3 linked regions of the Homo sapiens genome follow. The protein of the gene in region 1 purifies or fractionates together with the protein of each later gene. This does not show direct contact. Each region holds a gene or a part of one and is shown on either strand. Other genes may lie near its edges.

Evidence for each region.
Region 2: the proteins of MME (region 1) and ACSL4 purify together in Homo sapiens (affinity purification with mass spectrometry; 2 studies listed by BioGRID and IntAct, with this or other methods). This does not show direct contact.
Region 3: the proteins of MME (region 1) and TMEM164 purify together in Homo sapiens (affinity purification with mass spectrometry; one large-scale study listed by BioGRID and IntAct). This does not show direct contact.

What each region holds. Positions count from the first base shown.
Region 1 is NC_000003.12:155,114,819-155,118,468, reverse strand, and holds part of MME (neprilysin), read right to left. Parts: intron 3,476-3,650; coding exon 3,314-3,475; intron 1,991-3,313; coding exon 1,910-1,990; intron 1,806-1,909; coding exon 1,710-1,805; intron 1,602-1,709; coding exon 1,483-1,601; intron 1-1,482. UniProt on the Homo sapiens protein: Thermolysin-like specificity, but is almost confined on acting on polypeptides of up to 30 amino acids. Biologically important in the destruction of opioid peptides such as Met- and Leu-enkephalins by cleavage of a Gly-Phe bond.
Region 2 is NC_000023.11:109,681,166-109,684,815, forward strand, and holds part of ACSL4 (long-chain-fatty-acid--CoA ligase 4), read right to left. Parts: intron 2,502-3,650; exon of another isoform or gene 2,322-2,501; coding exon of another isoform or gene 2,199-2,321; coding exon 1,971-2,198; intron 1,732-1,970; coding exon 1,554-1,731; intron 211-1,553; coding exon 101-210; intron 1-100. UniProt on the Homo sapiens protein: Catalyzes the conversion of long-chain fatty acids to their active form acyl-CoA for both synthesis of cellular lipids, and degradation via beta-oxidation. Preferentially activates arachidonate and eicosapentaenoate as substrates.
Region 3 is NC_000023.11:110,001,570-110,005,319, reverse strand, and holds the start of TMEM164 (transmembrane protein 164), read right to left. Parts: upstream 2,207-3,750; 5' UTR 2,142-2,206; intron 1,820-2,141; 5' UTR 1,546-1,819; coding exon 1,156-1,545; intron 1-1,155.

The sequences.
Region 1 (3,650 bases):
GCAGAGCAGAAGGTGCAAGTGAACAAAAACATGTTAGATTCTAGGACGTGGAAATTTCTAAATTACATATTCACAGATTTCTCAGCTTCCTGAGATTCTAATGTGCTCCCCTGGGAACATTCTCATCTGCTTCCACCCTTAGTTGGGATCCCCTTTCATTGGTGGGAGTGGGTTAATATTCTTCAAGTTGATTTGGATGGATGGGGAGAAGGGGAGAAGTGGAAAACCTCTAAGGTAACTCCAGAATCTTTTAGCTAATGTAACTTGTGCCAGAAAATGTTTTTTAAGATTCTCTACCCTAAGGGAATGGAGGCGACTTCTCCTTGGTTCTCCTCAAAGCTGCTCTGCTCAGAAGAACCTCAGTAGACCCAGATAGCAGTTAAGGGTGTGAAAGAGGAAACTCAGTTTTGCGCTAACGTGTCTGGTCCATGTTTAATACCCAAGTGGGAGCTATCTGGGCATACTGCAGCTTTGCAAGATTGTTTCCTACTCACTGCATGGCAACATGAGTGTGGAGGCCAAACAGAGCATTTCTGGGTTAAAGAGAGAATCCTAGCAGCTGTGGAGAGCCTAGGCCAATAGAAAAGAAAACATAACCCAAAGAACTGGTATGGAAAGAGCCAGAAGATATCTCCACATGAAGGGCCCTGATCCTTCCCCACCCCCTGGTCCTCAAGGTGATCCTGCAAGGAGAAAGTTTCAGAAGAGAGAGAGCCCACTGCAGGAGATTTGGGTTCAATTCCTTTCATGATTTTAACAAAAACGACCATAAAGATTTATGCAATAGTGACACAGATATGATTAGGTGATTCAGTAGCCTGCAATTTTTTGTATAATTTCTTACACAGGAAACCAAAAAAAAAAAAAAACAAAAAAAAAAAGGAAGAAAGAAAAACTCTTTATATTTTTCAGTACATTCCAAACATAGTCATTAATCTAGTCTTAGGTGACACCTAAATCAAATTGTTTACATTTGTAAAAATACAATAAATCCATTTTAAAAGAAAGGCATTTTATTTACCTTTAGTTGAGAAAAAAGTACAGATACTCTTTAGTGAGGAAAAAAATGATGTTTAAAATCCCTTTTCTGTGTTCTTTTTGAAAGCAATTATTATTTTTTGGTTTCTAGACCTGCATTACTTCTATAAACGAAAGCATGCTCCTTTCAAGTACTATACAAAGAAATTAGGAACTTTTTCTGAATAGGAGGGGCCTGGAGCCCTTCTTATCATTTGTTTTGTGAAGGGAGAGGTATCTAAAACAGAGGTAGCAGAAGCAAGGGGTGAATGTCGAAAACAGCATTAAGAAAATACTTTCAAAATTGGAACTCCAGGTATTAGGGACAGAGCATGGATATACTACCTCCTTGCTTATTCAATTCAATTGAAAATAGCATTATTTCTAAATATCAATAACAACAATGTATGTGGAAGTTTTATTACAATTTAAAGGTAACTTTAGTTATTTGACACACAAACTTACATGAATTACATGATTCACAGAATTCTTATCATCAGTGCCAACAAACAAATTAATAAGGACTTTTTTCCCATATTTAGAATTCAGTTGTGCAATAGCTTTTTCAGCTGTCCAAGAAGCACCTAAAGCAATAAAAGATAAAATATATCTTTAGAAGCTTTAGTTCACTAATGATATTATAACATAGATTTTACATGGAAATTTCTTTTTTAGTAGGAAAATTGCCTTACCATATTTTTGCTCCCAGTTTTCTGTTGCTACTGGCCACCCATATATGTCTGGTAACAGTTTGAGTAGAGGTTCTCCACCTCTGCTATCAATAGCAGCTTTTGGAAACAACAAACATAAATTCAATTAGAAATCTAGGCATAGTTTGGCACCAATATATATATATATATACTCCTAATGAAATCAAATGAAGAGCACTTACATTCATTTATACAAGACCTGTACAATGCTTTTGCTTTCTGCACTGCTACTATATCTTCAGTTTTGGGTTCTTGAAGGACATCTGAAATAGGACATTTAATAAAATGCATCAACATAATTGCTCATTTGCACTATGCAAACATAATTGCTCATTTGCAGTAATTAACATTTGCAAAGTGGGTTCAGTTAAAAAAAAACCTTGCTTTTCTGGAGGTACATTCATTTCCTCCCCCCAGTTCCAAAACATTATAGGAAAAACCAAACCCCTTACCAGATTATCATTCCTAGCACAGAACTGGGAGTCAGTTTAATCAGCCAATTTAGATGAAAGTCCTTTTGACTAGATTATCTTTTTTTTTTTTTTATGAACAGTGATGCATACGGCTCTGCCATAGGTAACAGTTACTTTTCTTGAAATTGAGATTAAAAAAAAACAATAACACAGAGGAATTTGGAATTTAGTATGAATAGTCTTTTTGATGGCTGGAAAATAATTATCTTTGTGTGACTGTACCGTTCATGCTCCAAATGAATGAATTGAATTGTCCTACTTGTTTCAATGTTAAAAAGTAGCAAAAATTGTTCTTCTACAAAATAACTTCTAGAAGAGGGGAGAACAGAGAACAAAGGATAGGAGGGACTTGGCTAGATTTCTTAACTTCTCAGGGAGACAGTCTTAGCCAGGTTAGAATATACCTGTGCTGGGAAGGCAAATCTTAGTAACATCTTACAGTAACTTTAACACAGGGTTTGGGTAGGGAGACTACAGAAGTAGGTTTCTGTGCCAATCATTTAATTTTTTTTCTTCTGTAAAATGGCATAAAACTACCATCTTGGCTGGGCATAGTGGCTCACACCTGTAATCCCAGCACTTTGGGAGGCCAAGGCTGGTGGATCACCTGAGGTCAGTTCAAGACCAGCTTGGCCAACATGGTGAAACCCCGTCCCTACTAAAAATACAAAAATTAGCTGGGTGTAATGGCAGGTGCCTACAATCCCAGCTACTTGGGAGGCTGAGGCAGGAGAATTGCTTAAATCTGGGAGGCAGAAGTTGCAGTGAGCCGAGATAGCACCATTGCACTCCAGCCTGGGTGACAAGAGCAAAACTCCATCTCAAAAAACAAACAAACAAACAAACAAAAAACCAAACCTGCCATCTCTAGAGATGATACCGCTTTATTATTTGCATACCTACAAATGAAAGCAGGAATGCTAAGAGATGTCAACACATTAATTTCAGTGTCTGCCACTATCAGAGTGACTTGGTGGTGGTACACAAATCCTGGAAGGATTATTAACTTTTTAATCTTCTGTGACATTCCTTGTAATGGCTAACAATTGTATATTTAAAAAATGAACATATTAAGAGAGAAATCTTTGATGCACAGACACAATCTCTACTAACCTTTCAAAACGACTTCTAGTTCATCTCTTAAAATGTCAAAGTTGCCGTAACGGGAGCTGGTCTCGGGAATGACATTACGTTTCAACCAGCCTCCGCAAGCATATTTGAAAAAGTCTGTACAAGGCTCAGTGGTGGCATCCATGTTTTGGATCAGTCGAGCAGCTGCAAGAGCAGAGAAAACACTAGATAAAATGATGGGTTTATTTCTTAAGAGGCTTAAAAGGAGAAAAAGGCTTATTGCTCCCTTTTGATTGCATCAATTTGTCGGATGCTCCGTTTTCTTTTTTATATAAGTCAATTCAGGGGGATGAGGAATACTATCTGTGTATAGTTCTCT
Region 2 (3,650 bases), on another chromosome or scaffold:
ATTAAACTTAAGCCTGCAACAAAAATTCACTTACTGAATGAATATTTTTCTGTCCTGCCAGACAACGCAACCATGAATTAAAAGAAAATTTCATATTTACCTTAAGTTTACTTTCCAGAAGTTCAACACTGGTAATCAGATAGGAAGCCTCAGATTCATTTAGCCCATGAACTACTGCTTCTTTGCCAAGTGTGGCATATAAAGTCACAACTACATAATAAAAATAAACACAAATATTAAGTAATAAACATCTATTAGAAATGGATATTATTGAAGTCAGTCTTTAATAATAGTTACACTTAGAGACACAAAGACATTGTATATTTTAATTTGATTTCATAGTCTCTGTTACCATCCTTCAACCTTGCTTCAAACTCCCTGGGAGCCCAAAGTTTTCCTTACAAATTCCCAGAACTCTCACTTCCTAAACCTGAAGAAACCCAGAAACACTCGCACTGCCACAGCTGATCAAAAATCTGTCAATTTAGATGCTCAAGGCCAATAGGTACTGGCTGAACTCTTAATTCAGGTCAGACTGGCCCAGCTAGGGCTTCTTCTTGATACACACTTTCATTGGCCATAGCCTCCAAAGAATGGATAAGTCCTTGAAAATCTTGAGGATCTTAAGTCATAAGATCAGCCACAGATAATGTTCTTACTCCTTCTAAGAAGCTGTTTTAGTGAGTCCAATGTCCAATGTGATTGGTGACCTCCACACCTTAATTAGAGAGATCAAGGAGATCTACTCCTTAGGAGCCACCAGAGATAACATAAACCAAGATCAGTTAGAATCAAAGGACATCTGCTAAACTTAGAAAGAACTGAAAATTCAGCTCTAGATTGGTAACCAGAAACAATGTGGTTAAAAATAGCCACTTTCACAAGCTGTTCATCGTTGAAAGTGGGTAATGGGTACATAGGGGATCATTTTCATATTATCTATTTTTTGTTTGAAATTTAAGCTCTATAATCCTAACTTACAGTGTTATATTTCATTCAACAAACAACAGAGTACTTAGTATGTGACAATACATTGTTTATTTCTTAAACAATGGCAACAACAAATGCTTGAGTATTAGAAATATACTCAATTTTACTTTCTAACATATCTAATGCCAATTCCAGCTGTCACATGCATATTTCACACGTAAAATAGAATAAGTCAAATAAGAGGTCTCAAAGTGAAGCAATGAATTTGAATTATCCTGAGAAATGGTTTTTTGTTCTTTTAATCATTACTCTTTGTATATCACCCCCCCAAAATACCCCCAAACTCCAACTCTTTCAGTTACAATTCATTTCCAATTGGAAAATAAAAGTGTAAATCACATCCCTTAAAGCTGCCAATTCCCATATTAGTTCTTACAAGTTACCATACTTAACAGGAGTCATCGGATATCTTTTAGCCACAATATTACATGCCGTATTATGGACATAATTAATGTGTAAAATGGCTAAACAACACCTACTGTGAAAACAAGAGCATCTCAAAACAATTCTCACATGCAAGCAAAGACCCTCCTCTCCCCCCTCCAAAAACACAAGGCACTTACGAGGAAAGTTGTACTTAAAGCAGGTCTGTGCTGCAATCATCCATTCGGCCCTGGTCTCACAGAAGATGGCAATGGTGTTCTTTGGTTTTAGTCCCAGTGCAGTGAGTCCACTACCAAAGTTATTCACTCTGCGATTCACTTCAAGATAGTTCATCCATTTATAATTCCCAAGAATTAACTGTTAAAGTGATACATTCTCTAATATTAGTATATTCAAACAAGCAATTAAAATACTATCCAAAGCATAAAACTCTAAAAATGCTCTTAAATGAACATACAGAAGCTATGAGCGGCTTCTGAGTAGTTTTACACAGCACTATAATAGAATGCCAGCATACTTAAAACGCACTCGATTTATGATAAAACAAATGTGTCTTCCTCTTTAAAACATAAATGAAAAGCACCAAAATACTTTACCTTCTTAAAAACTTTTCCATTTGGCTGCATTTCATTTTCTTCACTTAGGATTTCCCTGGTCCCAAGGCTGTCCTTCTTCCCAAACTTGGATACAGCATGGTCAAATAATTTATCCAGAGTATCTGCTCCAGGGATGTCTATTACAGCTAGTGAGTCGAAGTGTGTGACAGAGCGATATGGACTTCCAGGTTTGTCTGAAGTGGGCTTAGCTTTTATTCTCTTTGCCATAGCGTTTTTCTTCTTGGCATTGGTAAGAAAATACCATGGAATAAATATAAGGGCACTGTATATTGTTATTAACAAGTGGACAGGCAGCAAAATAATGGTGAGCACATTTAGCTTAAGTTTCATAGTGGAAAGGCTTCTAAAATGGTGCTTATTTCTTGTTATTCTTTGGCTTTTGAAAGCCTTATTGTGCTGAAGAAGGCAATAATAGAAGCAGCAGTAAGAATAGCAGTACAGCCAAGGCAGTTCAATCTTAGTGATACAGATAAAAGTTAGTAATCTTTGGAAGCCGACAATAAAGTACGCCTGTAGGTGATGACAATGAACCAAGCAGAGAGCAGGAAAAATAAAAACAAAAAACAAAAAACAAAAACAAAAGAATATTAACAAGTTGATAGCACAATTGATTTAAATACTCAGGTCTTTATTAGTTTACACAATTAATTACAGAAAGCTGAAATAACTGGTCTGAAAGGCTGGCATTTTCCATTTGTAATCATTATTGACGTAAATGTCTTTGAGCACATCAACTTCTGAATTTATTTTTTTCTAGGTTTCTAGGTGTACTGGTACTCTGCATATCATTCTGTGAGTTGAATAACAACCTTAATGCTTACACAAATGCATGAATATGATATTTAAGTTTGTCAAAACTTTGGTAGAATAGGGTATGCCAATAATAAGATTTCTCTTAAACATGTGCATGTAAACTAGACATCTTTAAATAGTGTTAGGTTTATATCCAAAGGGGGGGGTGGGGCAGAAACTATCAACTTAGATTTATTTCTCAAAGGTCAACCCAGAAACCTTATTCTGAGTTCTTCATTAAGGTAAATTTCTCAGGTAATGCTATTTACTATCTACTATTTCCCACATGGGAGCAATACAATTGTAAAATCATTTCCTACATGTCCACTTTGTGCTCAAAACTGCACCAGTTGCCTAGGAGTGGTAATACAAGTCTGAAGTAGTATTAATTCCTGGCCCTTGGCCATTATAAGTTAACACTTATGAGTCAACTATCACACAAGATAGATCCAGTATTTTTGCAACTGTTTGGGGGAACGGGGACAGGGGGTGCAATTAAACCATCTCTTCTAATAAACACTACTGGAAACTGCCCATATATAACACTAAAGTGGAGTTGCTCTGGCCAAAACAGGGTTTGGGGATGTCCAGAGTCCTGCCCCAGAATTCCCGGAATCCCAACTCCCAAGGTGACCACTAAAGCATTTCCACTGAAAAGCCTTGTGGTAATACATAACTAATACATAACTACCATGTGCAGTGTAGGCAGTAGTATAAGCAATAAATGCAAAAGGAGTTCAGAGGAAGTGCAAAATGGCCAAGAGTAACTAGGAGAGGCTTTGTGGAGATTAGATTTAAGCTGGACCTTATGTTGGGCATCTAGAAATGAAAGAGGAATGGAAGGTATTCCAGGCTCAGGGACCATAT
Region 3 (3,750 bases), on another chromosome or scaffold:
CTAATTCATCTTCTGGCTGCAAGCAAATGACCTGCCATTCCTAAACCCCTCCAGGCCTGTAAAATGGAGATAATAATCTCAACCTCCTGCCCCAAGCTAGGCTGTCACAAGTCTCCAAAGAATAACCTTCTACAAACATAAAGGCAGTAAAGATGCTAATGACAGGTTTCAAAACTGCCCCTGAATAAAACACACCCGGTTTTCCACAGCCTGAAATCTAAAAAAGACTGATTGCTCTCCCAGTCTCCTCTTCCTCCTCCTCCATGATTTTATAGCTTTAGAACATCTCTCCACACAGGCTGAATACAGACAGTCTCACTCTTGGTCCTCACCCAGATTATTTTTATGTATCTGGCAACTTGCCTTTTCAATCCCATTTGTTTTCCTTAGCACCGCTAATGGGTGGAAGTCGATGAGGTAAAGAAATCAGCTTCCTAAGCACCCTTGGACTATGACCATAGGAGACAGAATGACAGTAATAGGATGGAGAGGTTTGCAAAAAAAGAAATACCCTCTCACCATAGTGATCACCAGCCCAAAGTACACATGTCAGCCTGGGGACCTGCTTCAGAACTCATTTAGTAGGAGCTTGGTGCTGCTCCAATGCCTCAAAATGCAAAGGCAGACCTCACTCTAAGAGCATACACTCCCAAATGAAAGAGTCATTAAGAGAAACCTGTAAAAGTATTTCCCCAAAGTACCACAGTGTAGATGAGAAAGTTTATGCGACCACCTCCAGGAAAGAGTGTCACCAGGCCCCTGGGAAATTAACTACCACAGAAGGCAAGGGAGCTGGGTCATGGTCCACTGATGTGATTCAGAAAGGGCACCTGGCTGGGGCTGGAATTCCTGCTTGTGAAAGCCCAGGGCACGGCAGGGTTGGGCTGGGCTGGAAGGGAGGGGCAGCCAGGGTGAGTGCCAGTCGTTCCTAGGGTTCAGGCACAAGGTTCCTCACCTCCACTGTGGGGCTGACGCACTGTGCAAAGGTGAAAGAAAGCCAAACCTGAAATCGGCACAAAGGCAGCCACTCGTTGGAAAATCATTTTTAAAGGTCCCCCTGCCCGCCGGGATGAGGTGCTGTACACTATGGAGTGTCCTGAGCACATAAATGACTCTTATCACTTAGGATGCCCAGGAAAAAGTCAACAGACTCACATGCATCATGGTGACCAGGTGACAGGGGTTGAGCAGGTAGATGACGGTCTTGGTGGCGAACTTAAAGCCCACCTCCACCCCGAAGGTCAGGCACAGGGCTACTAAGAGCAGATTCTTGCTCAGGCTCTCCTTGCCTTCCTCTGGCCGCTGGGTCACCTGCTCTGGCTGGCTGCCAGGGCTACCCCTACCGTCCTCCTTCGTCTGCCTCAGGATGTGCCGCAGGGCCACCAGGATCTCCAACAGAGCCAGGGTCAGGACCACCACACTTTCCAGCAGCCGCTGCTGCCAAGAGAGGAAGGCAGCACAGTCGGGGCCCCCATTGCCTGCAAAACTGGGGTCCACGCCCCCATAGAGCCAGTCCAGGAGACTCTGGTAGCTATACCGGGACATGATGCAGTGGTTCCCCTTGACCACAGTACAGGAAGCAAGAGTGAGATGGAACACAAGCCCAGAGGGTTGCCCGGGTGGTGGACCATGTAAGGCGGGCACACCCCCACAACCCCCCTCCAGACACCAGGGCACCGAGAGTAGGGGAGGGGAAGCTACACGCAAGGCCCGGGGTAAAGTGCTGGCTCTAACTTGTCCCCACGGCTGTCTGGGGGAGCCCCCCGCGCTTCTCCAGTGGCCACCAACGAGGCAGGGTTGAAAGGAGCCGTTGGCCAATCTAAAAGGAAGGAGAGGAAAAAAAAAAAAAAGAGGTCTCAAAGAGGCAATTGCACCGGGAATTAGGAAGCGGGAGGGGTAACTAGCGAGGGAAGAAAACGGGAACGGGGCAGTGGCGAAGCAAGCAGGGGTCAGGGGAAGCCGGAGGCCGAAAGGGTCAGGGCGGGGGCCAAGGAGACCCGGCAGTGCTGCGGCAGCGAACCGGGAGCCAAAAGGGGTCAGAGCTAGGGGACACGCGGAGGCAAGGAGAGGAGCTAGCGGGGCCGAGCAGGCGGGGAGGGCGACGGGGATGGCAGGGACGCCGGACTCCTCGTCTCACGCACTCGCCACAGAGGGATCTCTTACTCCTGCAACCGCGTGGCCGTCTCTGCCCCCAGCTAGCAACTTCGCCGCCGACGGGCCCCTCCAGCCAATTTAGAGCCGTCCTTGTCCAGCCTCCCGCCCCCGGGTACACCCCCGAACCCCCAGCTCCACCCTCCGGCCCTAGACGCCCGCCCTCCGGGCAGCACCACCCCCAGCCCGCGGCCCGCCCGGGACCTGCCCCCCTCGCGCAGGCAGCGGAGGGAGGAAGCCAGAGGGAAGGCGGGAGGCCGGGCCAGCCGGGGGCTGGACTAAAGCCGGCCCCTGGACTAAAGCCGGCCCCCCTCCCTCCTCCCCGGCGCCGCAACCTCCCGCGCCTCCCGCCCAGCCCCGGGGACCGGCCGCCGCGCCCCTCGGGGCTTCACTCACCGGCAGCTCGGCCCGCGGCCCCGGATCGGGCTACTGCTCCGCTCCCGCGCTCTCCGCGCCGGGCGCTCGGTTCCCCTGGCGGCCGCCGCCGCGGCGCACGGCTCCTCCTCCCCGTCTTCCTCCCCCTGCAGCAGCCGCGCTCGCTTCCTCCTTCTTCCCCTCCCTCTCTCCTCCCCCTCCCCGCTGCCACCGCCACTGCCTCCCTCCTCCCGTCCAGTTCAGCTCTCGCCCCACCACACGCCCTCGGGCCACGACTACTCCTCCTCGCCTCCTTCCCTTTTCTGCCTCTGGCACTCCCCTCACCCGTCCACCATTCACACCTCCCACCCTCCGCGGCTTCGGCTCTCCCTCCTCCTCCTCCCTCCTCCTCCCTCCTCCGGCTCAGGCTCCGCCTCCTTCCGCCTCCTCCCTGGCCTGCCTCGTCTTCTGCACTCGGAGCCTGCACGCGTGCACAGCCACCCTCCTTCACAACCGTGTACAGAATTCGCCCCCTCGGTGAAGCCCTGTTGACTGGCTCCGCCTCCCGCGACCTGGTTCTCCAGGGCACTTCTTTCTATACTGCACACATAGTAGGCACTTAGCTGGCCCGCACTAACTTCTTGTGGGGGAATAAGCCTTTCTAGTAATGAGCAGCTTGGCTTCGGGGTGTGTGCTGGGTATGGCCGGCTCCTCTTCGCGATTCCTCCTTTCTGCCACGACTCATGCAAGGCCAGAAAGGCATCTTCTCTCCCCTTTCTAGCCACAGCCCCACTCCACACTTCAGTGCCTAGGACAGGAGCTTCATTTCCCTGCTCCTCCCCCTCCTGCTCTGATCCACTATTTTCTCTCTACCTCTTGCCACACAGACCACCCCTGCCACACCCTCTCCCTCTCCCACTTCTCTCCTTTCTCCTGACAGGCCTTCAATGGTAGGCCAGTGGGAGGAAGGGAGGCTTCCCGTGACCTCTTTCCCTCCCCCTCTTCCCCCCTTCCCCCTCCCCAGAGCAGTTGCTTCCTAACCTATGCGTGGAAAAGCCAGCCAGGACTATATGAGTGTGGAGGAGCAGCACTAAGCCCAAAACCTGGATAAGGGCAACTGACGGAAATAAAATCCCCTCTTCCTACCTGCTGCTTTTTACCGATCGGCTATTTGCTTTTCTTGAGACAAGGGTCAGTAAAAGGACCTTCTCAGGACCTTCCTCATGTTTATTTAATATTTATTGA